Homo sapiens: one gene and its partners. The protein of the gene in region 1 interacts with the protein of each later gene in a pairwise test. Each region holds a gene or a part of one and is shown on either strand. Other genes may lie near its edges.

Region 1 (7,037 bases):
AAAAAAAAGAAGAAAATTCTGCATATCATATGCTACCATTTGTGAAGAAAGGTGTACTATATATCTTTCCAGAATATTCTATGCATATAAATATTCATATATATGCTTACATATAGTAAGCATTTGCTTCTAGTGAGGGGGACTTGGTAGCTGGGAGACACAGGAGTAAGAACAGTTTTTTTTTTTAACTTTATAAATTGTGGACTACATGAGTGTATTCCCCCATAAAATAATTTTCCAATGATTATAGTCATGTGAAGTTATGAGATTATAACTTTAATTCAACATTGTAGTAGGTGGATTACGTTCATAACTCCTACTTTTCACCCTTCCCTGGGACCACATGCTTAGGAAGGCTCTTCCTGTGCTGATCCTAGGCTTGGCTAGGAGGCTTGCTTTGGCCTGTGGGACTAGATGCAAATGTGACAATATCAGAGACTTGAAAGCATGCCTGTGTGTCCACTCCCTCTCAGACTCCTGCCACCTCCCTGAGAACACACCCAGGTGAGATGTGAGTCAGGAGAAGAAGATCAAATTGGCCCAGCTGAGCCCTCCTGGTCCAGGTCCAGACCAAGCCTGGTCCAGACCAACAGAACCAGCAGCTGACCTCCAGATGCATGAGAAATAGTAAATGGATAAATGAGGGCTGGATGGTTTGTTACACAGCAAGAGCTGACTGATACAAGCATTAAAGTCAGGTCTTTGAGTTAGGGGGAAAAATGGTGGAGATGGGTAGGTGTTTCCTCATACTGAAAAAAAGACTAGGCCCACTCTAAAAATCTTTTGTAGAGGAGAAGCACTCCCTTCTTCTAGAATAACTTTCAGCTCTAGATTTCTCCTGCTCATTTTCTCTAAGCACTATTTCTATCTTAGTGAATCCAGATTTCTTCTTCAGACTCTGCTCCTTTAGTAAATATGCCAACTTGGCCAAAGAAACCAAACCTTTTATTCACTTTAATTCAATTAAATTTACTGAGCAAGGGCTTACTCAATAAAATCAACAATGAAAAGGCCAGCTGGCCAGGCACCGTAGCTCAGGCCTGTAGTCCCAGCACTTTGGGATGCCAAGGCAGGCAGATCGCCTGATGTTAGGAGTTCGAGACAGCCTGGCCAACATGGTGAAACCCTGCCTCTACTAAAAATACAAAAATTAGGCTGGGCGCGGTGGCTCATGCCTGTAATCCCAGCACTTTGGGAGGCCGAGGCGGGTGGATAACGAAGTCAGGAGATCGAGACCATCCTAGCCAACATGGTGAAACCCCGCCTCTACTAAAATACAAAAAAACTAGTCCGGGTGTGGTGGCCGGGCGCCTGTAGTCCCAGCTACTCGGGAGGCTGAGGTAGGGGAATCACTTGAACCCGGGAGGCGGAGGTTGCAGTGAGCCGAGATTGCATCACTGCACTCCAGCCTGGGCGACAGAGCAAGACTCCGTCTCAGAAAAAAAAAAAAAAAAAAATTAGCCAGACTCCTGTAATTTTAACTACTCGGGAGGTTGAGGCAGGAGAATCACTTGTACCCGGGAGGCAGAAGTTTCAGTGAGCCGAGATCGCTCCACTGCACTCTAGCCTGGGTGACAGAGAGAGACACTGTCTCAAAGAAAAAAAGAAAGAAATTAAAGGCCAGCCATAGGTGTTTCTGCAGGTCTACTTGCCCGTGCCCCATTTATAATTTTGCACCAGGAAGACCGCAGGGGAGTCTGGCAGATGTGAGGTACAGTCTTAGCCCTGTGTCTTCCCCACTGTGTGCCCTCAGGCAAGTTAACAAGCTTCTCTGAGCCTCGGTTTCCTCACAGGAAGCGTCGGGGATAACACAGTATCTCCCCCATAGCATTGTGAGGTTGGAAAGGAGGCCCTCAGCTCTTAATCTTCTGCTGGTCCACGCGGGTTTCTGCCAGGGCACCCCTGTTGACAGGTTTCTCCTCCCTGTGAGAGCCCAGGTGTTGAGTCAGGCGTGGGAGCTGGGCAAAGGCGTCCCGAACTGTCTGCATGCGTCCTCTGGTGTCGGATGAGCGCGGAGGAGAAGCTGAAGGCCTTCCCGCAGCCGCTGCACTCGTAGGGCTTCTCCCCGGTGTGCACGATGTGGTGCTGGATCAGGTAGGAGCGGTTGCTGAAGGCCTTGCCGCACTCGGGGCAGGTGTAGGGCCGCTCGCCCGTGTGCGTGCGCTGGTGCAGGGCGAGCGAGGAGCCCTGGCTGAAAGCTTTGCCGCACTCGCCGCACTTGTAGGGCCGCTCTCCGGTGTGGATCTTCTGGTGCTCTATAAGCGAGGACACGTGGCTGAAGGCGGCCCCGCATTGCAGGCACCTGTAGGGCCGCTCACCGGTGTGCACGAGGCGGTGCTGGAGGAGGTGGGAGCGGTTGCTGAAGCGCTTGCCGCAGTCGTGGCAGGGGTAAGGCCGCTCTCCGGTGTGCGTGCGCTGGTGCTGCGTCAGGTGCGACACCTGGGTGAAGGCCTTGGCGCACTGGCCGCACGCGTAGGGCTTCTCGCCTGTGTGGATGCGCCGGTGCTCGGCCAGAGAGGCGCTCTGGCTGAAGAGCGCGCCGCAGTCCTGGCACGTGTAGGGCTTCTCGCCCGTGTGCACGCGCCGGTGCTGGGTCAGGTGCGCGATCTGCGCGAAGGCCTTGGCGCACTGGCCGCAGCGGTAGGGCTTCTCCTCCGTGTGGATGCGCTGGTGGCGGATGAGCGCTGAGGAGAAGCGGAAGGCCTTGGCGCACGCGGAGCACTCGTAGGGCTTCTCACCGGTGTGGATGCGCTGGTGCTCTATCAGGGACGAGCGGTTGCGGAACGCCTTGGCGCACTGGGCGCACGCGTAGGGCCGCTCGCCCGTGTGCACGCGCCGGTGCTGGGTCAGGTGCGTGACGCGCGTGAAGGCCTTGCCGCAGTCGGCGCAGCGGTGCGGCTTCTCGCCCGTGTGCGTGCGCCAGTGGGACGCCAGGTACGAGCCCTGGCTGAAGGCCTTGCCGCACTCGTGGCAGGCGTAGGGCTTCTCGCCCGTGTGCGTGCGCTGGTGCAGGGTCAGGTGCACGCTCTGGCTGAAGGCCTTGCCGCACTCGGGGCACGCAAATGGCTTCTCCCCGGTGTGGATTCTCTGGTGTAAGATGAACGCTGAACAGTAGCTGAAGGCCTTCCCGCAGTCCCCGCATTTCCACGGCTTCTTGGGGCCTCCACCTCTCTCCCGCTGGCGGCTGTCAGGATGCCTCTCCTTCGGGCTCTCCCCAGGCGCGCTGCACCTCCGGGAACTGCTGTCGTCGGGGACACTGGCTTGGGTAGCAGCAGGGCTCGATATGGTTCTTGGGATTCGGCTGAATTCATCGCGTTCCTGCATGCTGTCCCCAGCAGGGTCTCCCTTGCAGGCCACGGCCTCTGGCTCTGGACAGCTTTCCTGGTTTTCCTGCAGGTCCTCAACCTGGCCCTCGTGTTTCCAGTTTCCTTCCAACTCTGCGCCCTGGAGGGCGACGCTCAAGAGTCCCTCCATCCTCGATCCCTGGGCTGCTGTCTTGATCTCACATCTTTTCTCTGGGTCTGAAAAGAAAAAGATAGAAAAAAAAATTAAATGTTGCCACTTGTCCTGAGCTGGAAAAATGGCTAACAGCTGAACTGGTAAGAACTTAGCATGGGGTCCCTGGACCTCTGTGCCAATGACATTTTGGGTCCAATAATTTGGTGTGGTGGGACCCATCCTGTGTGTTGTGAGATGTTGAGCAGCGTCCCTGGTCTCTCCACACTGGCTGCCAGGGACACTACCCCTCAACCCCTGAGTTGTAACAATGAAAAATGTCTCCAGGCCGGACGTGGTGGCTCATGCCTGCAATCCCAGCACTTTGGGAGGCCAAGGCAGGTGGTTGCTTGAGCCCAGGAGTTTGAGACCAGCAAACTGTCTGCTGCCTGGGCAACACAGCAAGATCTCATTTCTACAAATGAAAAAAAAAATTAGCCAGGCATGATGTTGTGCACCCGTGGTCCCAGCTACTCAGGAGGCTGAGGCAAGAGGATCAGCTGAGCTCAGAAGGTTGAAGCTGCAGTGAGTAGTGATCACACTACTGCACTCTAGCCTGGGTGACAGTGTGAGACCCTGTCTGAATTTTCTTTAAAAAGTCTCCAGACACTGCCAGGTGTCCCCTCCCCTGGGGACAAAATTGCCCCCAGTTGGGAATCACTGACTTAATGGAACTAAAAACAAATTTAAAAGATCCCTGAAAAAGAAAAAAAAAGCATGAATCTGTCAGCTCTTAAAATATGGCCCTGTAATCTGGTGCTGTGAACTGAATTGTGCCCCCTCAAAATTTATACATGGAAGCCCTAACTCCCAAGGTGATGCTTTGTGGAGATGGAGCCTTTGGGAGGTGATTAGCTTTAGAGGGGGTCATGAGGGTGGGGCCCCCACAATGGGACTGTTTTATTTTTTTTTTGACATGGAGTCTTGCTCTGTTGCCCAGGCTGGAGCACAGTCTTGGCTCACTGCAACCTCCGCCTCCCGGGTTCAAGCAATTCTTCTGCCTCAGCCTCCTGAGTAGTTGGGACTACAGGTGCACGCCACCATGCCCGGCTAATTTTTGTATTTTTAGTAGAGAGGGGGTTTCACCATATTGGCCAGGCTGGTCTCAAACTCCTGACCTCAGGTGACCCACCCACCTTGGCCTCCCAAAGTGCTGGGATTACAGGCGTGAGCCACCGCGCTTGGCTGGGACTAATGTTTTGATAAGAAGAGGAAGCGACACCAGAGCTCGCTGTCTGTCAGGTGAACACATGGCAAGAAGGCAGCCGTCTGCAAGCCAGGAAGTGAGTCCTCAGTGTGGTCTGACCATGCTGGCACTCTGATCTCAGACTCCCAGCCTCTAGCACTGTGAAGAAATAAGTGTTTATTGCTTCAGCCACCTAATCTGTGATTTTTTTTGTAAGCTGGAGCTAAGATAACTGGAAAGACAGTTTTCTTTTCTGGGGAAAAATCAGTTGAAACTTTAATTCCCAGTGTGACAGCGTTTGATGTGGGGCCTTTGGAGGATGATTAGGTCATGAGGGCATCCTCCTTAATAGGATTAGCGTCCTTATAAGAGGAGACACCAGGGGGCTCACTTACTCTCTGCTCTCTCTGTCCTCTCTGCGTGTGAGGACACAGGGAGAAGGCGGCCATCTGTAAACCAGGAAGAGAGCCCTCACCAGACAGAATCAGCCAACAGTGATCCCAGATTTCACATTATGGGGACACTATTCAACTCACTATGCTCCCCTTCTACAGGGCTCCATCAGTGAAGGAGCTGCCCAGGGTCTCCCAGGCTCAGAGGTTCATGCTGGCTCGTGGGCCCAGGGTCGTTAGAGATGGTGATCTCAAGCTATTGCAGGTTACCCTGTCTGCTTTGCACATTTTCAGTGGAAAGCAGGGATCTGTTTTTATATGAGCCCAGGAAGTCACTGTTTTTTAGAAAGCCATAACAGAAGCCATACATATAGTTACTTCTAGTGGGGCTGTGATGCTGAAGGATTTATACCAATTGCCTGGTGTACACTGGACCTGCACGCTGGCGAGAAACTCACCACTGACTTCTGATGCTTTAGTTCTAACAGAATGGGAAGACAGATGGACAAATGACCTCCTGGTGCTGAGAGAGGGAAGGAGGCAGCTGCCTGTGGATCCACTGTGCTGGGGCTAGCCCCAGAGGAGGGGGCTCACACTGCTGGGAGGTCCTTTCCAGGCTGTGTGGCTGCAGGTAAGTGGCTACCTGCTCTGAGGCTCTGCCTGGTTTTCTCTCTCTAAACAGGGCTCCAGCCTCCCCTTCTCCCGAGGGACATGGCAGGTCTCTCAGCAAGCTTGGCCTCATGTTATGTGTGGGCTCAGCCCCTCACACACAGGCATTCCCTGAACCAACTAGTAGGCTGTGTGCATACAGCAGAGAGTGCTCGGCCTTTGGCTCCTCCGGGTACACTCCTGCTGCTGCTGGACAGGCTACGTCTGAAGCTTGTCCTCCCCACTTCCTGTGTGAGATCCTAACCCTTTGTGGTGGTGCTAGGAGGTGGGGCCTCTGGGAGGTGATGATGACATGAGGCTGGAGCCCTCAGGCGTTGGATTCCTGCCCTTATAAAAGAGGACCCAGAAGGCTCCCTTGCCCCTTCCTCCAAATGAAGACACAACAAGAGGGCCCGGTCTATGAACTAGGAAGCAGCCCTCACCAGACACCAAACCTGCCGGCACCTTGACCTTGGACTTCCAGCCCCTAGAACTGTGTGGAAATAAATGCTGTTTCTTTCTTTCTTTCTTTTTTTGTTTTTTTGTTTGTTTGTTTTGTTTTGTTTTTGAGATAAGAGTTTCGCTCTTGGTGCCCAGGCTGGAGTGCAGTGGCACAATGTTGGCTCACTGCAACCTTCACCTTCCGGGTTCAAGCGATTCTCCTGCCTCAGCCTCCTGCATAGCTGGGATTACAGGCATGCGCTACCATGTTCAGCTAATTTTTTGTATTTAGTAGAGATGAGGTTTCACCATATTAGTCAGGCTGGTCTCAAACTCCTGTCCTCAGATGATCCACCCACCTTGGCCTCCCAAAGTGCTGGGATTACAGGCATGTGCCACTGTGCCCGGCCAATAAATGCTGTTTCTAAGCCACCAGAGTATGGCATTCCGTCACACCCCAAAGGACCTAAAATAGGGCTTTTTTTTTTTTTTTTTTTGAGACAGGGTCTTGCTCTGTTGCTCAGGCTGGAGTGCAGTGTTGCAATCATAGCTCGCTGCAGCCTGGGAATCCTGGCTCAAGTGATCCTCTCACCTCAGCCTCCCAAAGGGCTTGGATCACAGGCAGGCACCACCAACCACACCTGGTCAAGACAGGGCTTTTGTGTGGGCTATTCTTTCTGCCTGACATGCTCTTCCCGCAGCGTGTGCCTCAGCAAGAGGACAAGAGGAGACCCTGAGGGAGTGATGATGTTTGTGTTCAGGGTGGAGAACACAGCAAGTGCAAAGGTCCCAGGGCAGGATGGTGACAAGGGTGGCAGAGGAAAGGTAAAGGGGGTGGGGCTGGACAGAGCAACTGAGGTGCAAGGCAGGGGAGA
Region 2 (7,037 bases), on another chromosome or scaffold:
AATGAATCACAAGCCTCTTCCAGTTTTAAAATACTGATCATGTGCAAATGCAAAACAAAACAAAAAACCTTTCAATCCTTCACTATCTTCCTTAGCAACTACCATCCTCCCCCTTTCCTTAACCTCTACACGAAGTTCATCCTCATCATATCTACTTCCTTGCCACTCACATTCAGTCCTCTGGTCTCTGTAATTAGAGTTTTGCCCCTACATGCACAACTGGAATTTTCTTTTCTGTGGTCACCAGTAATCAATATTGTTACACACAATTAACACTTTTTGTCACTATCCTACTTCAAACTTGCAGAAAGTTGATACTGTTCATCAACCCCTCCTTGAAACCCACTCTCTCTGTTAGTTTTTATTACACTACTTTCCTAGATGGCCTGTATCTGACAGCTCCATCCCAGGCTCCTTCCTTTAGTGATCCTTTTCCTTCTCCCACTCCATAAGTTTCTATCCTTGGCCTCCTATTCTTTTTACTACATATATACTTTATATATACATATATACTTGGAACAGGCTTAATGAGTTCCAAGGTTTCAAGTATAATAGAAGGATAGTTTCCCTAATATTTCTTCAAAACAGATTTCTCTTCTGAAATCCAGAGTCATATGTCCAGTTGGATGTATCTTGGATACCCCATTGTCACCTCAAACACTACTTGTCTAAAACTGATCTCATCATCTTTTCCCCAAATCCTTCCTTTTCTTCTATTTCCCTTCCCAGTGAATGCCAGATCTCACTCAGTTGCTCAAACTAAAAGCCCAGACTCTTCTTTTTCACTATTTAACCAAAAGCAGTTAGTCACCAATCAAGCCCTCCTGATTATAATCCTCTCAAATCTATCCTTCTTCTCAAATGCCACTTCTCCTGACCTCATCACTTTCTCCTTGGATGACCATAGTATCTTTCTAATATATCTCCTTGACTCCAACTTGGTCCTCTTCACTATACCAAAATAACTATTAAAAAATGTAAATTTTATGAAGTCTGCCATTTTATTTAAAACTTCCATGATTATCAGGTTAAAGTTAAAATTCCTCTATTTAGTATAAAATAATTTCTATAATCCAGCCACTACCTAAAACCCCAACCTCATATTTAGCTAATTTAACAAGCATGCTTTTATCACTCAGACACATCTGATACAAACTACTTTGTCTTCCTCCTAACCGCTCCATTTCCCAAATCTACTGGACCTAGAAGTTAATGGGAACCACCAGTGCCCTAGAAAACAATGGCATAAGTGCTTATCGCTATCCCCACTTCTCTTCCACCAACTCTATTTACATACCAATTCTTCTTACAAAAATCTTTGCAGAGCCAACAAACTATTTTACTATTTAAGGCCATACATTATCTGGTACTAAGATATGTGAACCCTTGGGAGACATGCTTTCATATATTAAGGTCTATATTATCAAGCAGCTGTTATGATAAAATTCAATAAAGATTTATCCAGATAGAAGCTTTTATATAATGGTGGCTACAGAAGCAGACAACTGGCTACAGATCTCAAATTCTATCTTAATCCAAGACCAAACAGGTGTAAATGTTAGTTCAGAATCTACATTTGGATTCAGTTACTAAAAGTTCCCTTAAAGAACTACCCCAAAATATCTGCCAAATTATCAATATGACCACACACTCTAAGCTAAGATTAAAACAAATTCAAGCATGCCCAATCATGATCCAGGAAAAACTGGAAATATGATCCAACATTATAGCAATATGCATTTGCTAACAATGGCTCACTGTCTGCAGCACTCTCAGGGCATTAGTAAGTCTGTGAAGAGCTACTAAAATTTCTATGGGTGTTGAAACTTCATCTACTTTGAATAAGTTGAATCCCATTTTCACTTTTAAATAAAGGTTTCAAACAATACTAGAATAAAGGAAAGAATGGAAAGCAACTGTGATTAAAGAAAGAAAGAAGAGGCTGGGTGGGAAGCAGCAGCAAAGCAAACATACATGGCCTGGTGGTGCTTGCATTGGTCGTTTCAAGTCATTACGTCCTCTGCAGGCTCGGATCACAGTTTTGTGACGATGCAAATGTATTTCAGCTTCTAATTGGTTCCAAAGCTTATCATGAGCAGGTCCCTTCATATCTCGTCCTAGCAATTGTATCTGTTGGACCCTTCATATTGGGAAAAGAGTACATTGATTTTTCATTATATTCACTACAGTGAGAATTCAGGAAAATTAGTGAACATAAGTAGCTTTTGCATGAATCTCAAATTAGTGATAAAACTAATACTCACGAACTTCTTGATGTCTCTCAGATATAAAAAAAATATGAAAACTCTGAAAAGAACAGGTATCCTCAAGGGAAAAACCAGTAAAAAAAATTTTTAAAGGAATTAATGTGAACTCCTTTAGTCATATACTTAATTCAAATAAATCTAAAAAAAAATTTATGAGATTAATGTCAATCTATGTCTTGCATGCAAAGTCACTGAACTCAGATACTATTAAATGTTAGCTTTTAGATGAGATAAATGGACAAAAATATTTCTTCTAATTAGAGTTTCTTTTCACAAAATGATTACTTTAAATGTGGTTAAAAGTTACTAGAACCAGCCAGGGCAACAAGGCAAAACCTTAACAATTAACCAGGCATGGTGGCATGCCTGTGGTCTCAGCTACTTGGAAGGCTGAGGTGGGAGGATCACTTGAGCCTGAAAGGTGGACGCTGCAGTGAGCCAACGTTGCACCACTGCACTCCATCCTGAGCGACAGAGTGAGACCCCATCTCACAAAATTTAAAAAAAAAAAAAAGTTACTAGAAAATTTGTACTTCAAGATGATATAAATTATTTTTTCTTTGTTCCATGTTTTTAATGTGACATTAAAAGAATATGCACAAAATGATTTAGTACTAATAAGTCACCAAAGTTTGTTAATAATTTACTTAATAAATACAGCAGAATTCTGTGTATGATTATGATAAAATCATTGTCATTAACTAAATACCAACACGTTTTTTTGAAGGGCAAGAAAGACTGGGTTTCAGTGATCATAAAAAGAATTCCTTATGGAAGTTCTGCTATGCATGTGAATATCGGCTGTACTGGTCTCAAGGCACAAAATAGTTGAAAAGTGCTGCTCTACAGAGTTGTTAGCATTTCACAGTAAGATACTATCAGTGTTTGTGTGTGTAAACTAAACATATTTAGTATGGATAACTAGATCTGCGATACATAATGCTGTCAGTATTAATTTAACAACAGTAAGTTAAAACCAACTGTAAAATAATTCTGAGGAAAAAGATTAATGCTTCATTTACCATAAGAAAAAAGAGTAGGCCAGGTGCGGTGGCTCACACCTGTAATCCCAGCACTTTGGGAGGCCAAGGTGGATGGATCACAAGGTCAGGAGTTTGAGACCAGCCTGGCCAACATGGTGAAACCCCATCTCTACTAAAAATACAAAATTTAGCTGGCCGTGGTGGCAGGCACCTGTAATCCCAGCTACTCAGGAGGCTGAGGTAGGAGAATCGCTTGAACCCAGGAGGCAGAGGTTGCAGTGAGCAGAGATCATGCCACTGCACTCCAGCCTGGGCAACAGAGCAAGACTCCATCTCAAAAAAATAAAAAATAAAAAAAGAAAGAAGTAAGAGTCAACCTCATTAAATATCCAATTTGTCACTTAAGAGTACAATAATACCCATTTTTTACACACCTTCCTGCCAGTTCCTTATCCAAGTACTTGGCAGCTAGTCTCGCCCCATATACTTCAGCCTGGAGAACAGCTATATGTCTACGAAGGGCTTCATTCTCTTTTCTCAACAATTTCACTTCAGCTTCAAGTTGTGCTTCTTTCATTTTTTCTTTTTTGTTTGCCTCAAGCTCTCTTTCCTATGTAATTTTTAAAAGCATATAATTTAATGAAAATAAAAACTCTTTAGCACTAGACCATGTTCCTGAAAATGCACAAAAGCCTACAGTTCAACAATGTATCATCTCTATAAAATGGAACACAAAGATCTGGATGTAGTTCTTTTGAACTAGTACCATAACATCTTGGAACTACTTCTAGATAAAATAATTGCACGCCATGGGTTACCCTGATATGGAGTATAGTAAGAAAAGTAGTCTACTCTAAGCTCATGTTATCACATATTAGTAAAAGTGGCTTCAATGGATAGTTGAATCTGCTATTTACTTCTAAAACCCTTTTGAGAGTTAAATAAGGACCCCAATAGACATTTTAACTGTTATTTATAGATCAAAAAAACCACGTAAACACTGAAAACTTGCATTTATCCTGAGCAGAACTGCTTTTACAGAATCCACAAATCCTATGAAAACATGGTTACATTTGTTCACAATATGTGGAAGACATTATTCCCTATACCCCCTTTGTCCCTTTTGTGAGGACGTAAATAAAAACCTACCTTAGCACCAGAGAAATTGTTTCTCTTGAGGAAATGATGAATAGTATTGTTTCTATTGTATGGGCACTGATTATTTTACATAATTATTTCCCTTTTTATTCTGGATATTGAGAAGCTAAGAAACAAATTTAAGCAAATTTTCAGCAATTCATGGAATATATTTTGGTACTAATTTAATGTGCCTCCTTTGGTCTACTGTTTTGAACAACATCAAAATAGATATATTTGAATACTAGTCAATAAATACGATAATCCTAAAAAAAATATATTTACATATACACACACACATACAAGCTAAAATTAATGACAACTACTAAATGCTAGATATATTTATCACTTCTTTGATTAAAAATATTTGTTATATATATGACAAACAGATGAAAGATTAGCAGACTCAATTTCTGGGAAAAAAAAGATTAGAACGTAATTTCTAGATACTGGTTTTAAAGGATTCGAAAAACTCAATCTAGAATCCTCCTTTTAACATAATTTTGGAATTATTAAACTCTTATTTCAGAACCTATGTCCTAAAAGGGCAAGTATCTGTTTCAAAAGAAACCAGTTTGGAGATACAAACAAAAATCTTTCTTATGACATGTTAAAGTTGATGCAACTTTTGAAAGAGCACTCCTAGACCAAGATTTCTTTGGCTTATGGGCTAAATAAACTTTATGTTGATGATTACCTACTTTCAATTACTTTAATGAGCTATTTATACTACATTAATGAAATGTGGGAGACATACTAAGCTACCACTCACTGGGGTTTTAATGATTCAAATCCCTAATGAATCTGACAAACTCTTGGGCCCGAAATTAACAGAGGTAAGCAAGAATAAGATGAAGGAAACTGAAGTTAACCATTTCTAGATTTCCAGAAAAAAATTTTCTTGGTTCTTAGTTAACCTGTTTGTTACTAGGTAACACCCAAGATGTTCATTTTACATTTAGATACCAAAGATTATATCTTCAAAAGAGGTAAAGCCATAAGACAAATTGGAACTTGATTAGGTTGGGGTAATGAGAAAAATATTAAAAATGTATTGTTATTTTCTAAAATAACTTCTGCTAAAGCATTTCAAAATTCAATTGTTTCAAAGGCCATACGATTATTCTCAAGACTCTTGAAAAGTTGTAACGCAGTAGATGAAGAAGAAACCAACATGCACATTCTTTTCTGGAAATAATTTCAAACAGAAACTTAAGGGGGTTAAAAACTAAGCCTGCTTGATATATCTTCAATACCCTGAAGTGGGAAAACCAATTGCTCTTTGAAGTAGAGGTATGAGCAAGCTACAAGGCTCAAAAATTGTCAAAAATTGACAGGCTCTGCAAATAATGGCTATAAATCACTAACAAAAGAAAAATGTTTAACAACATGCAGTGAGAAAAGAGCAATGGGCCATCCACTGAACTTTTCAGGTACTGGAACATTAAAAAATTGCCATTATTAATGCTATTTTCAAATACAATGAGTGACAACATATAATATGCAAATAAAACACTAAGAACACTTCAGCGTGACATATTAAAGCAAAACAGAAACAATATACTTACCAGCTCCTCCACAGAGGGGCCAGACTTCAGATATAAGAAAAAAGTTTTATAATTAGAAAAAGATCAAACAAATGATTTTATTTAGTGGTATAGTCATTATAAGGAAAAATCCCACATGTTGGATATCATTTGGGTAAAGTTCATTAGAACAAATATATTTGCAATCTATAAACAATAGTAACTGTAATAGCATTAGATTAAAACTTTTTGTTTTATCAAAATTAGTCAACATAACTGGTACAGTGTTCTTTTCATCATACTCTTTCAAATTCTAATGTTAAAACTTCAGGTAAATTCTTTTCTAGAGAAAATTTAGATTGTTTCTGAATGTTAATGTCAAATAGCTCGAAGAAGCAGTTATGAGCTTTTATTTCAGTTAAATAAAACCCTTCTAACACAGATTCACAGAGTTAGAAAACTTAAGAGTTTAACTTAAAATTATTTTCATGAATTTTAACACATCAGTACTAGGAACTAATTAACCAAATGAAATTAACTGAAAACAAATAAAACTTATAAATGTATTACTCTCATTATATCATCAACATCATTTCATGTCCTGCCTCTGCCAAGCAATAGCTGTCTTATTTATTGCTGTGTCCCATATAGGAACAAAATATCTGCTATCTCTTACACACTCAAAACATATGTGGTACACAGTGGCAGGAAAAATGCTTACAATATATTAAGAGCAAAAGAAAAGAATGTGCTACTGGTTGGTACCCAATTCCATTTCTTACTTCTTCCTTATTAACAGACTCCAGTTTTACTGGAAGTGGCCATATGGCCAATAGGAGACTGACATGCAGCTGGGGATGGTCAATGAAATGCTGGCAAAAATTACTGAGAAAGATTTAATAATAAGTTCTTTAAAGAAGGCTAACATCATGGAGAAGCATCTTTTTGCCCTTTCCTTAGATTAATCCTTCTTCCTGCCTGAAATGCAGACATGAAGAAATCCTGAGGATGGAAACCATAAGCTAAAAATGGCAGAGCACAGTGATGGAAGGAATCTGGATCTCTAATATTTGTGGAGCTGCCGTATCAACTCTAGACTGCCGGTCTCAGATTTCATTTCAGAG
Region 3 (7,037 bases), on another chromosome or scaffold:
ATGCTCCTATAGAAAATTACATCAGTAGCATCCTTCACAGATTAAAGTAGTAATAATAGCAGTTAACATTCCAGTAGTACTTTTATGTTATGCCAGGCACTGTTACAAGAGTTTTATATACTTTACTGATGTTATCCAACAACTTGGTAAAGACTATTCTCCCCAGTTTATCAATGTGGAAACTAACAGGAGTTCATGGACTTGCTCAGGGTGGCACAGCTAGGTAAGCACCAGAGGCAGGATTTGAAACTTGGCCATGTTTGTGTTCTTAAATACTATGAAATAGTGATTTTTTTTTTTTTTTTTTTTTGGAGACGGAGTTTCACTTTGCCACTCAGGCTGGAGTGCAGTGGCACAATCTTGACTCACTGCAACCTCTGCCTCTGGGTTCAAGTGATTCTCCTGCCTCAGCCTCCCAAGTAGCTGGGATTACAGGAACGTGCCACCATGCCCAGCTAATTTTTGTATTTTTAGTAGAGATGGGGTTTCACCATGCTGGCCAGGATGGTCTCGAACTCCCTATCTCCAGGCACCTGCCCACCTCAGCCTCCCAAAGTGCTGGGATTACGGGCTTGAGCCACCACGCCTCCCCACCCCCTCCTTTTTTTTTTGAGACAGTGTCTCACTCTGTCACCCAGGCTGGAGTGTGCAGTGGTGCAATCTTGGCTCACTGCAACCTCCACTTCCTGGACTCAAGCAATTCTCCAGCCTCAGCCTCCCAAGTAGCTGGGACTACAGGCATAAGCCACCGATGCATGGAAAATTTGATTATAGGTGTGAGCCACCACACTCAGCTAGTGCTTTTAAATACTATGTAATAGGTCATCAGGTCCCCATAAATTTGGAATGTATTTTATTACATGTACTCTAAATGCCAGCTTGGCAATAGGAGGTTGGTTATATTTGACCATCTTTAGCAAACTTGAGCATATTTAGGGGTGGAAATGAGGACTGGGCTGATATTTGACTAACATTTACCAAGAACTCATTAAGCCAGGCTTTGTTTCAAGTTCTTATCCATAGACACTCAAGCAGAGCTCAGGACACATCCCTTAGTAAGAGGTTCCATTTACCTTAGTACAATACACACACTGGTATGGTCTGTCTCCAGAGTGGACTCGCATGTGTTTGTTTAGGCTGGAAGATTGAGAGAAACATTTCCCACATGTAGAACACTAAGGTGAAAAAGAAAAATATAGTTGAAATCACACCTTCCTCTAACAAGTCCATTTCAACCTTGCGTTTACCTGGGGTTAGAGAAGAACTCTTTTCCAATTTTTTTCTTTTTTTTTTTTTTGAGACGGGATCTCAATTTGTTACCCAGACTGGACTGCAGTGGCACAATCACGGTTCACTGCAGCCTGGAACTCCCAGGCTCAAGCGATCCTCCCACCTCAGCCTCCTGAGTAACTGGGACTACAGGTGCGTGCCACTAAGCCAGCTAACTTAAAAAATTTTTTTTTGTAGAGATGAGGTCTCACTATGTTGCCCAGCCTTGTCTTGAACTCCAACAGATCCTCCTGCCTTGGCCTCCCAAAGTGCTAGGATTATAGCCTTGAGCCACGGCACCCGACCTGAGAGAACTCTTGCTTCAGATGTGGAATGTGGGAACTGAACAGGTTTGTGGTATATGGCAGAGGCCTGAATTAGTCCTGCTCTCTCAACAGGTAGCTGTGTGACTACAGAACATTGGTTAAATCTGGAATCTTAGTTTCCCGATCTTGCTCATGGGCAAAATACCTGCTCTGCCTTCCTCACAGAGCTATGAGTAAACTACAAGTACTGTGCAATTAACTCAACAATTATCTACGACTTACAGAGTACCTACTGTGTGCTCCACACTGCTAGAAACCAGGAGCTAGAAATCAAGGAGGGGTGACGATGAACATGTAAGCCAACATGGTAATGCACAGTAGCAGATTATCTGAGACGTGTTGAACTTGCATGAAGAGGTTAATATTTTGTTCACACGCTGTGAATAATTAATATTGTTTCTTGACCCTGGCAACTCCTCTCGAAACTGTCTCAGGAATTCTACACCAGGTGAAGTAAACTACCAGAGAGGTGCAAGCACCGAGAGTTTGCCAGGGATAAAGCAGAAGGCCTTTGGTTTTGACATCACTTTTAAGGAAATTACACTAACTAAAGAGAAAAAACAATTTTTCTCTGAGAAAGGTTTCTGTGCTTTCACAACCTCTTTCCAGGCATGCTTATGGGGCAGAGGAGAGAGCAAATCTTTGTATTTGTTTATTTATTTATTTTTATTTATTTTTGAGGCAGAGCCTCGCTCTGTTGCCCAGGCTGGAGTGCAGTAGCATGATCTCGGCCCACCGCAACCTCTGCCTCCTGGGTTTAAGCAATTCTGGTGTCTCAGCCTCCCGAGTGGCTGGGACCACAGGTGCGCACCACATGCCCATCTCTACAAAAAATACAAAAAATTAGCTGAGCATGGTGGCATGCACTTATAGCCTCAGCTCAGCTACTTGGGAGGCTGAGGTTGGGTGATTGTTTGAGCGTAGGAGGTGGAGGTTGCAGTGAGCTGAGATCATGCCATTGTACTCTAGCCTGGGCAACAGAGTGAGACTGTCTCAAAAAAAAAAAAAAAAAAAAAGATTGTTCCTCCACTGTACTGTAAGAGCACCTCGTCTGTTGAAGGGTAAGCCATCATCTCACTATCACCAGCTTCCTCATCAGTCCTGTCATCTACTGACCTCCTGGTTGACAGCCCTCCAGTTTCTTTTCTTTTTTTTTTTTTTTGAGACGGAGTCTCGCTCTGTCACCCAGGCTGGAGTGCGGTGGCGCGATCTCGGCTCACTGCAAGCTCCGCCTCCCAGGTTCACGCCATTCTCCTGCCTCAGCCTCCCGAGTAGGTGGGACTACAGGTGCCCACCACCACGCCTGGCTAATTTTTTGTATTTTTAGTAGAGATGGGGTTTCACCATGTTAGCCACGATGGTCTTGATCTCCTGACCTCGTGATCCACCTGTCTCGGCCTCCCAAAGTACTGGGATTAGGCGTGAGCCACCACTCCCGGCCTCCAATTTCAAAGAGAGCAAGCATTCTATACATCTTCTGTAATTTGGTTTTTGCTTGATAAGACAATATTTTTTTTTTTTTTTTGGGATGGAGTCTCACTCCTGCCACCCAGGCTGCAGTGCAATGACACAGTCTCGGCTCACTGCAACCTCCGCCTCTGGGGTTGAAGCAATTCTCCTGCCTCAACCTCTAGAGTAACTGGGGCTACAGGTGCCTGCCACCACACCCGGCTAATGTTTTTATATTTTTAGTAGAGATGGGGTTTCGCCATGTTGGCCAGGCTGGTCTCGAACTCCTGGCCTCAGGTGATCTGCCCACCTCAGCCTCCCAAGGTGCTGAGATTACAGGCGTGAGCCACTGCGCCTGGCCAGTAAGCCATAATTTATATAATCAATTTTGTGTTGATGAACATGCAGTCTCAAACTTTTCACTATCAGAATACTGGATAGTTTTCACTTTTGCCAGTCTAATAAGCGAGAAATACCTTCACCGTCCTGATATTTTTAAATCCTTTTAGAATTACACAAATGCATGATAACTGTAAATGTATTCAAATTTTATAGGAGTATATAATATAGTGATTAAACATGACTTTTCCAGAAGCTTAGGAAGGAAGGGAGAAATTAGGACAATTTTATGATGATTTTATTCTCAGTTTTCAAAACAGGAAAATGGGCTCAAGGTCGTAGCTGCCTGAGGTAGTTCCGACAAGGCCAACAGTCAAGCAAGAATACATCTGTGCCCAAGCCTCGTCCTCCTTTTAATTAAGCCCAAGGGAATATTGTACTTTTTTGCAGCAAGCCTAGCAGAGCATCCAGGTATTTGGAATGGCTCCGTAATGTCATTACTGATTTTCTGTCTTACAAAATCCTCGGCCCACTGTAGAGGCCTTCCGCTCCTTGGAAGGACCGTGCCTTCACTTCCTTCTTACCTATACCTGTCAACACACCTGCACAGATTTGGAACAAGGCGCAGTTCCCCAGGAGCACATGCCAGGCTCTCTCCTGTCTGGAACAGCTCGACTCTTTCCTGCCCAACTAACCCTGCCACCAGTATAAATCAGACACCCCATTTGTCCTTCTATACTTGGCTCAAGGCCACCTCTGTGCATCTTTCATAATCCACGTGTCCAGGTGGCCGTGGACACTCCTTCCTCCATGTTCCTCCCTCTGTGGGTACCTGCATCCTAACACATGTGCATCGCTGTGCCTATTCACGCCTGCCTGTTCCGTAATACTATCCTCTCCTCCTTCAGAGAGGGTGTCCGTCAGGCATCACAGCCCTGCAGCTAGCACCTACAAGGCAACTCCCCGTGTTCAGGAGCTTGGGAAGGGAGAGAGAACGTGATGGTGGGTCATGTGTCCTCCTAATACTCACCTTGTGAGGCCGGTGCTTCTCATGAACATGAAGAATGTGGATCCGAAGCCGGTCCCGCTTCTCAAAGGATCGTTTGCAGAGAGAACAGGGAAATTTCCTATCGCCCTTGTCCACACAGGGGGTGTACTTGAGGTGCTTATCTCTGTAATATTTGTAGGTAAATACCTTCCCACATCTTTCACATCTGTAGCCTTCTGCAGACTCTGTCAAACACAGCAAACACAATGTCTCTTCAGTTACTTCCCTCCCTAGTTCCTTCAAGAGGATATTTATTTATTTATTTATTTTTAGCCAAGAATTCTTTGGCTACTTCAAGAGGAATTTTCTTTTTTTGAGACAGAATCTTGCTGTATTGCCCAGTCTGTAGTGCAGTGGCACGATCTTGGCTCACTGCAACCTCTGCCTCCCAGGTTCAAGCGATTCTCCTGCCTCAGCCTCCCAAGTAGCTGGGATTACAGGTGCCCACTACCACGCCTGGCTAATTTTTGTATTTTTAGTAGAAACAGGGTTTCATCATGTTGGCCAGGCTGGTCTAGAACTCCTGACCTCAGGTGATCAGCCCCTCTTGGCCTCCCAAAGTGCTAGGATTACATGCGTGAGCCACTGTGCCTGGTCAAGAGAATTTTCTTTTCTTTTCTTTTTTTTTTTTTGAGATGGAGTCTTGCTCTGTCACCCAGGCTGGAGTGCAGGGGTGTGATCTCGGCTCACTGCAACCTCCACCTCCCGGGTTCAAGTGATTCTCCTGCCTCAGCCTCCCAAGTAGCTGGGACTACAGGCACACACCACCACGCCCAGCTAATTTTTGTATTTTTAGTAGAGGTGGGGTTTCACCATCTTGGCCAGGACAGTCTTGATCTCTTGATCTTGTGATCCACCTGCCTCGGCCTCCCAAAGTGCTGGGATTACAGGCATGAGCCACCATGCCCGGCCGCCAAGAGAATTTTTAAAAACCTTTTTATTACAGAAAAATGTAAACATACCAAAGTGAAAATAATAGTGTAATAAACCCTCATGTGCCAAACACCAAGCTTTGACCAACTCGTAACTAATTTTGTTTTCATTTATATCACCGCTCGCCATAGTAGATTATTTTAATACTAATTCATCCTTTGACTCAAAAACATCTAACCGTAATCTTTAGAAGATGACATATTTTTAAAAAGCATAATTGTGACCAGGCAAAGTGGCTCACGCCTATAATCCCAGCACTTTGGGAAGCTGAGGCAGGTGGATCACCTGAGGTCAGGGGTTCAAAACCAGCCTGGCCAACATGGTGAAATCCCGTCTGTACTAAAAATACAAAATTAGCCAGGCGTGGTGGTGCCTGCCTGTAATCCCAGCTACTTGGGAGGCTGAGGCAGGAGAATCACTTGAACCTGGGAGGCGCAGGTTGCAGTGAGCCAAGATTGCACCACTGCACTCCAGCCTGGGCAACAACAGCAAAACTCCATCTCAAAAAAAAAAAAAAAAGCATAATTGTGCCAGGTGCAGTGGCTCACGCCTATAATCCCAACACTCTGGGAAGCTGAAGTGGACAGATCGCTTGAGCCCAGGAGTTTGAGACCAGCCTGGGCAACATAGTAAGACCCCATCTCTACAAAAAAATAATAAAAATTATCTGGGCATGATAGCACACGCCTTTAGTCCCAGAGGCCGAGATGGGAGGATCACCTGAGCCTGGGGAAGTTAGTTGAGGCTGCAATGAGCAGTGATTGAGCCACTGCACTCCAGCCTGGGCAACAGAGCAACACTTTGTCTCGAAAAAAAAAAAAAAACATAACCATAATGTCATTGTCACATTGTCATACCTAAACGATTAACTCTTATTCTTTTATAGAAACATATATGTACTTATATATGCACATTTATATACACACATATATATTTGTTTAATTACTTTCTGGTCAGTCCATTCAAATTAGGCTTCAAACAAAGTCTACATGTTGTATATGGTTGCTATGTCTCTTAAATATCTTAACCTATAGGCTCTCTTTCCCTTTTGTTCCTTGATATGTACTGTTGAAGAGACCATTCCACCAGCCCCATTTAAGGGCAGTGCAACCCTGCAGCTCTTGAACACATTCCTGCCTGGCACTTGTTACAAGGTTAATACACTGAGGCACTGAGGCCGACCTATTTCTCTTTGTGCCTTTAAGATCAGCCTGAGTTACAAGCTCAGAGCAGTCACCAGGACACCCGCAGCTCACAGTGCTGTTCTATTCTACACAATTCAAGGGACCTTCTTAGTTTATACTTCATTACTCAAAACTTGTGGCAGATTCCAGAGCTAGAATCTTTATGTATAGAGTAAGGTTGAAAGCATCTTGACTTCCCTAATGCACAGGGTTACCGTGATGACTAATTTAATTCTAACACTTACCGAGTCTTACCAATGTGAGTGATACTATCACTGAATGGCAGACAAGACTGAGAGGTAAATCTGTTTTTATCAATGGAGGAGGGAGGAGGAGAGAAGTTAGAGAGGGTGCAGCTAGACTCTAGCAAAGCAGGTCCCACGTCCAGGGGTGTCTATGTGTTGGGGGAAGGCGAGAGAACAGGGGCCACCTACAAAAGCATCCCTGCAGAGGACACTCTGGATCCCAGAGGATAAAGTGGCTTTGACT
Region 4 (7,000 bases), on another chromosome or scaffold:
AAATGTTGGTAATACCCTATATTTGGTAAAGTTATTAATTCTACAGGCATGAAACTAGTGAAACCAGAGGCTACGTACGCTGTAACTGAGCAGCTCTCAGTTGCTTCTTCAGCCGTTCCACTTCATTCTTTAAAAACCTGATGTGACGCATCATATTTTCTGGAGAATCAATCTCCATGGAGATATCTCTAGGCGATGGTGGAGCAGAGACGGGCTGGTCTAATTTTTCCTGCAGGATTCTTCATTGAAAAGAAAAATTCCAACAATGACTAACAGTTTTCCTTGAAAAGACAAAACAACATACTAGCTGGCAGGTTTGTTTTAAAAGCAAACTCCTGTTTACTGCCAGAATTCACAGGGTTGCTTAATTCCTCTGCCCATTTTACATCAAACTTCTGCCCTTACGTGGTGTCTCACTTCAAAGGGCAGAGCTGATTCTAATCTCCCTTTTTCCTTTTAAATGACTATTAAATGTTTTAAATTAAACAATACTGAAAAGTCTTTATTTAACAACAGGATCTGATAATTATGCCTGGAATACAGTATGCACTTAGAAATACCTGCTGACTCAATGTTCAACTTCTTGGGTTTAGTGCATGAAGATGCTGAGGAAATTCCATTTTCTTACGGCTTTTGATTGAAGCTTCTAAGCTACTATGAATCTCCTTGGAGGGTAAAGTAACACAGAGACTCAACTTCTAAAATTCCCTCCTGCAAAACTAATTGCAAGGGCATGGCAAACTGGACTAGCGGCCCTTTGCTTTTGGCCACAGCAAAGGTAAAAAGTTAAAAACAAAACCAAAATTGTTAGGTTAATAATTAGTAGTGCCACCTTCTTTACCAATTATTTTTATGTTGAAGGATATAAAATACTGATATTCAATAGCTCTGACCTACAAAATGCAAACTTCCATACTGTTCAACCCAATAATTTGGCACTAATACATGTAAAACCTCCAACTGCCTTTTACAAAGTCTTCCTTTGGCAGCAGATCTCTAAATCCCTTTCCATAGCTGCTGGGGTTTTTGTTTTGTTTTTGCTTTGTACCTTTGAGTTTGTCCAGGAGCAAACTGAGTTACCTCCATCCAGGTCTACCCTTGAGAAAACTAGTGTGTTAAATATTATAATGGTCCCTGCATTTATTACATAAAATGACTTTTCGTAATTCAACTTATTAGTACTGCTACAATAATACCTATCAGTAAAGCATAGTGGATATGATTATAACAAGTATTTCTTATAGATATAGCTCTAATTTTCACTTTTCTTAAAGCTATGTGGTATGCCTGTATTTTGCAAATGTAGACATGAACTCAAAACAATTACAAATATGCATCCAAACCAAATACTTAAGGAGGAAGGGCTCTGGGTAGCAAACAAAAGATCTTGGTGAAGTAGATTAATGACCATTTTTAAGAAACTCACTTTTTACACCCGTACACACATTCCACATACAGAATCTTCTTCCCATTCTTACAAGCCCTGCCTCACACACTCCAAAGTACTCAGTGCTTGAAAATAAGGGCTTAACTATCTTGCACAAAGAGGTTTAAGAAATGTTTGCTGTTGAGTGACATTCCACTTCCAAGTACATACATTTTATATAAAGAATCCTAGCCTTAAGTATGTAAAGGTATTTCTTTACAGTAGGTTTTAAAACAATTTTATTATTAAAATCTCAGGCTTCCTAAAGAAGTAAATTCCAGAGATGTATAAATAATAGTACGCAGTATACCCTATGTACTTTACAAAACAACTGAGGAAGCCAGTTCAATAAGGTGGAAAGTTGAAATTGCAACCATTCTTGAAAATACTTTAAAGGTGAACAATAGCAGCATGACTAATTCTCTCATAGCCTTGTAACACCAAATGAAAAGAAATTCTACTGGGACAGTATGATAGCAAAGAATAAAGAGGTGCCCAACATGGGAATAGTTCAGAAGGCTTTCAACATTTTTTTTCCTTTGGCCAATTAAAATGATGTGCATCACCAAAGAATTAAGGTGTCCTACTGCTATTCCTCAGTCACACCCAGAGCAGCAACACACACACACACACACACACACCCATACTGAACAGCAAGACTAAACAAACCGCTTTTCAGCTTCAAGCTTATCCATCCTTTTCCAGAGGCGATTAACTAGTGCTTCTTGTTCTTGTTCCAATGTATTTTCAAGGTCAATCTTCTCCCGTCTCAACTAAAGGAAGGAAAAAAGTGTTACCAAAGTGTCAGGCCACTTATACTTTGTTAATACATTTTTTGATTGAACAATTAGGACCCCTTTTCTTGGAGAATACTGCAAACATGTGGCCAATTTTCTGGCACAAACATATTAAGTGCATCTAGTTCTTAAACTTTGAAAAAAACTAGATAGGTTCATTCTTGGATGTTAATGCTTAATTGTTGTCTGGTACATGAAATGCATTGCTTGTTTCAGCATTTATTCAAGGCAAGTGGAAAGTCCTCCTTAGAGAGGTCTTTAGGGGAGTTCGGTGTACTAGTCATATCAGGACTTTTCTGGGCTTGTCCCTTACAGTTCTGGGCTTACAGTTATTCTTCCGGGCTTGTCCCTTACAGTAAGTCAGAAAGGTTATATTACTATTCATATAAATAACTCTTAAAAGCTCCCAAACACTCTACATACTGGCTAATGGAGATAAATAAACATGTACTAAGATATAAAAACACGCACAAAATATGATAAACACCAAATCCACAATACTGGTTACTCTAGGTTACTCTAAGGATTTAGGGAAGGAAGAAAATTTGATTTGGGGGAGGCTTTGCAGTTGCGGAGGGAACCCCAACAGTGTTCTATTTCAATGAAGCAAACATGGGAAAATTCAATTAATCAATATTGAGCAATATGTAATAAATACTGAGAACAATGACTGGATAATGGGGGCATAGCAGTGAATCAAGGAGTCAGGAATTTCTGCCCTCATGGATCTTCCTTTTAGTGGGGGTCAAGACAGTAAATGAAACAATTATATACTTGTGAAACAGTATGAAACAGATATGTAGAAAAAGAGGGCTGGTAAGAGAGACTGAAAGTGCAAGAGGTTTCATAGCAATGAGTAGAGGACATGTATTCTATCATTCTCCGTACTTGACATATTAAATAATTAAAAATTTTTTCTTAATGCAAAGAGCCTATGCTACTGCTTCCATGTTATTTCTTCAACCAGTGGCAATTCACCTTTCAATGGTTGAGTCAACAAATTATTCTTGATTGCACAAAGATGTTAATAGATTCCACATTTCCTTAGTGGGTCACAGAGGCAAGCTCCTCATCCAAAGATCCCGTGTGTATACATAAGGCAGAACCAAAAACATGAATAAAATGTAGTCTTTTAAAGCAATCAAACATCAGAAAATAATATCCAAAGTGCGGTTTTACTTTTACAGCCAAATGACATTCCCCTTTCTGAAACTCTTCGTAGCTTAGTCTTAAGAAGCAACAATCTCAACCTCCCGAGATGGTTAGTACTACCAACACCACCCAAGGTCCTTAAGGAGCTCACAGAGAGCAAAAGACTTGCCCATATTCACACAGGAGCACAGGACAGCCAATGAAGGTGAGCAGCTACTTGTTCCACATCTGAGCCAGAATGAATATGCATAAAATCAGCTGCCTCAGAACCTGAACAATCAAGACCTGAGAGGAAATGATATAAGGATAATGATATCATTATGTTCTAAGTTTAGAGAAAAAAAGGAGGTCTCAAACAGATGGGAAAAACTCTCCTGTGACGACACAGCTCTAGGCTTTTCTTTTCTCCTCTCAAAGCCATAAAAATAGCTGTAGAAACAACTGGCCATTTGAATATTTAAAATATTTCCTACAAACAGGTACAGTCACAAAACAGCAGCCAATGCATTGGGGGGAGACTCCTGTAATTACACTTCTGTCTTATGATCATAGACTTTGAGCCAAATGCCTAGGTTCAAATCCCAGCTCCATCAATCACTAGTTAGAAAATGTTGAGAAAATTACTAGATATAATTTTACCATTTGCAAAGTAAGGGACAAAAATAATGTCTGGCTCATTGGATTACAGTGAGCATTACATTTGTAAATCTAGGTAAACCATTGATAACTAATGGGCACTTAGAAAGCACTCAACACTTTTTGGCTATGATAATCACTATATCTGGATATCCGTTCTATTTCTGTTCCAGCCCTCCACAATGTAAGTCCTACAAGGGACTTGTCTTGTCTGTTTCATTCCTTAGTACATCCTCAGTATCTAGAATAACATCTGGCACCTTATAGGCCATCAATATATATTAGAGGGCTTATTTGACAAGTGAATAAGCCATGATTATGTAGCAAACTGGAAACAGAGCTTCAAAATATGTTGTTTTTGCATGGCAGAATTTGATTCTGAAGAACAGTTCAAGGGCAAAAAGGAGGAGGTGCAGGGTGTCAAAATAAGTCAAATATATTGTGCCGCAAAGTTGGGACCCCACTAACGTGCAAATGCTCCTCAGAATGTTAAACAATTCCTACCTGCAGCAACAATGAGAAATTGTGGGACCCTTATATGACTCCTATTAAACCTTGTGATTCTCTGCATTCATCATACACTTTGGCCAAGCTTTGAAGTACAATCCACAGTCATTTCTTTTCTTTTCTTGAGACAAGGTCTCGCTCTGTTGCCCAGGCTGGAGTGCAGTGGCACGATCATGGATCACTGTAGCCTTAACCCACTGGGCTCAGGCATTCCTCCTGCTTCAGCCTCCCAAGTGGCTGGGACTACAGGCACACACCACCACACCTGGTTAATTTTTTATTTTTTGTAGAGATGAGTTCTTGCTACGTTGCCCAGGCTGGTCTTGAATTCCTGGCCTCAAGCAATCCTCTGTCTAGGCCTCCCAAAGTGTTGAGATTACAGGTGTGAGCCACTGCCCCCAGCCTCAGAATTATGTTTATTTAAACAAATAACTATGAGGCATTTACCTTTAAGGATCCCAATTCCAGTGTTTAAAAGCATCATAGGAGGTAGAGGTAGTTGATAAGCAAGAAAAAAATTCAAGCAGGCATCATTTTGCGGTATGATGTCTAGTGGAGAAATGCATACTCAATTACTTTTAGAGTAAATACTCATAATACTAATCAATAACTCTGAGAAGCAAAATCAAGACAAAGCTGTCTTTACCCATATGTAACTAATGAGGCATGTGACTCTGAGCAGGTCACTCAGCTGCTGTAGCTCCGATGCCCTCATCTATGAAATGAGAAGTTTGGCCTGGATGATGCCTGTGGTCCCTTTCTGGCCTATCCATTCTGTCATTCCCTGCCCAATGTCAAGACAGTAGCTGTCTTCAGTCGGGGCTAGTTCCGTCACACGCATTTAGAGCCAGAAGCAGCATGGCAAATCATCATTTTAAAGCTGAGGAAACCACTAGCCTGCAAGATGACATGACTCAGGCAGTCATGCCACCAAGATAGGAACGGATATCGGTCACCATGGCAGCCAAAATTGCTGGGTCCTGTCCAACCAGCAAGTACAGAGGAACTTGAGGGAAACATGGATTTAGGGCAAATCAAGCTGTGGTTTGTGGGCCTATCTCCTTTGCCAACAATACTTGGGAGTAGCAGAGTTGGGGGTAGCTGATGCCAGGGAAATAAGGACAGTTTAGGGAGTCTATGAGCGATTTTGGAAACAGACGAGATCAGGAAACATGGGTTGGAGCTCTACGTGAATCTCGGCTCCTTCCTGGCATCTGTTGGTAGAGTTACCAGCTATCAATCTACTGCCCACCTCAGCAAACGTGGGCACCCTGAGTGTGAAACTTGGGTTTGCTGTCCCAATTTGCTCTACTAATTTATTTCCATGATGCAGGCAACACAGGAAGCCCCAGCTCAGCCGTGTGGATTCTCAAGTACAGTAGGTCCTTGAATGTTCAACGTCCTTTTATTATAATGTTGACGGGGGGGGGGGAAGCAGATTCTCAGTGGGGCCTCTGTCTATGTAGGGTTCACATGTTCTCCTTATGTCTGTGTGGGTTTTCTCCAGATACTCGAGTTTACTTCCATGTCCCAAAGATGTGCAATCGGCATGTCTACATAGTCCCTCTGGAGTGAGTAAGAGTGTGTGTATGAGTGTGTCCTACAATGAGTTGGTGCCCCATCCAGGATTGGGTCCTGCTTTGTGCCCTGAGCTGCCAGGACAGGCTCCAGCCACCCTTGATCTGAACTGGAATAAGCACGTTAGAAAATGAATGAGTACAAATTATTGTAAAATACAAATTCATAAAGTATATGCTAATCATACAAACACATGAAAATCAATGATGCAGTATGCAAGTATTCAGCAAGCCGCTGTAATTGTTACTATTTGCTTTTGAACTGTGAGTTGGGAGGAGGTGCTCCTTACAATTTTTACTTTGCAAACATTTATCCCTTGATTTAACACATCACTACTATGACCATCACTCACTGATTCACTAAAAATGGGGTAATTATACGGTTTTCATTAATCTTTAATATATGCATAACTCATATTTGTTTCAATATTTAATATCAGAAGTATGTTGGGTCTTTATTTAGAAGTGTGATAATGTTTTTGTGACCAGAAATATGTCATAGGAACTTAACTCTTGTTTATATCAATCAGCTTCTGGTAAAATTGATTTTCATATATGTTGTTTCACTTAAAGTCAGTTTCCAAGAACTATACTGACAATGTTAAGTGAGGACTTACTGTATTTCATTACATAGGCTGGCAGTGCTACAGGACTCTATATTATCTTTAACCCTGAAAAGAGCAGGGCCTCTTGTTTTTTCAGTTTTAAAAATCTCAACTTTTCAGCATTGTTGAGGAGCTCTGGCTGACATTAAAGAGCAGAGAAGTTAGAGGAAATCATATTGAGTCCCTTGGTTAATTTCCCCTGAAGTTCTTTATCAGTTTCCCCACCACTTCCTGCCCACCTAATTCCAAATCCTATATACTTAGAGCCAAAGTGAACATAACAGTTCCGCCAATTAAAAC

What was found.
Region 2: the proteins of ZNF835 (region 1) and GOPC interact in binary tests that used the Homo sapiens proteins (3 or more experiments, as listed by UniProt).
Region 3: the proteins of ZNF835 (region 1) and PRDM14 interact in binary tests that used the Homo sapiens proteins (3 or more experiments, as listed by UniProt).
Region 4: the proteins of ZNF835 (region 1) and CCDC6 interact in binary tests that used the Homo sapiens proteins (3 or more experiments, as listed by UniProt).

What each region holds. Positions count from the first base shown.
Region 1 is NC_000019.10:56,661,725-56,668,761, forward strand, and holds the end of ZNF835 (zinc finger protein 835), read right to left. Parts: intron 3,522-7,037; 5' UTR 3,475-3,521; coding exon 1,861-3,474; 3' UTR 256-1,860; downstream 1-255. UniProt on the Homo sapiens protein: May be involved in transcriptional regulation.
Region 2 is NC_000006.12:117,571,493-117,578,529, forward strand, and holds part of GOPC (Golgi-associated PDZ and coiled-coil motif-containing protein), read right to left. Parts: intron 5,980-7,037; coding exon 5,956-5,979; intron 3,861-5,955; coding exon 3,685-3,860; intron 2,141-3,684; coding exon 1,975-2,140; intron 1-1,974.
Region 3 is NC_000008.11:70,054,227-70,061,263, forward strand, and holds part of PRDM14 (PR domain zinc finger protein 14), read right to left. Parts: intron 4,617-7,037; coding exon 4,414-4,616; intron 1,176-4,413; coding exon 1,074-1,175; intron 1-1,073. UniProt on the Homo sapiens protein: Transcription factor that has both positive and negative roles on transcription. Required for the maintenance of embryonic stem cell identity and the reacquisition of pluripotency in somatic cells.
Region 4 is NC_000010.11:59,812,557-59,819,556, forward strand, and holds part of CCDC6 (coiled-coil domain-containing protein 6), read right to left. Parts: intron 2,200-7,000; coding exon 2,096-2,199; intron 240-2,095; coding exon 79-239; intron 1-78.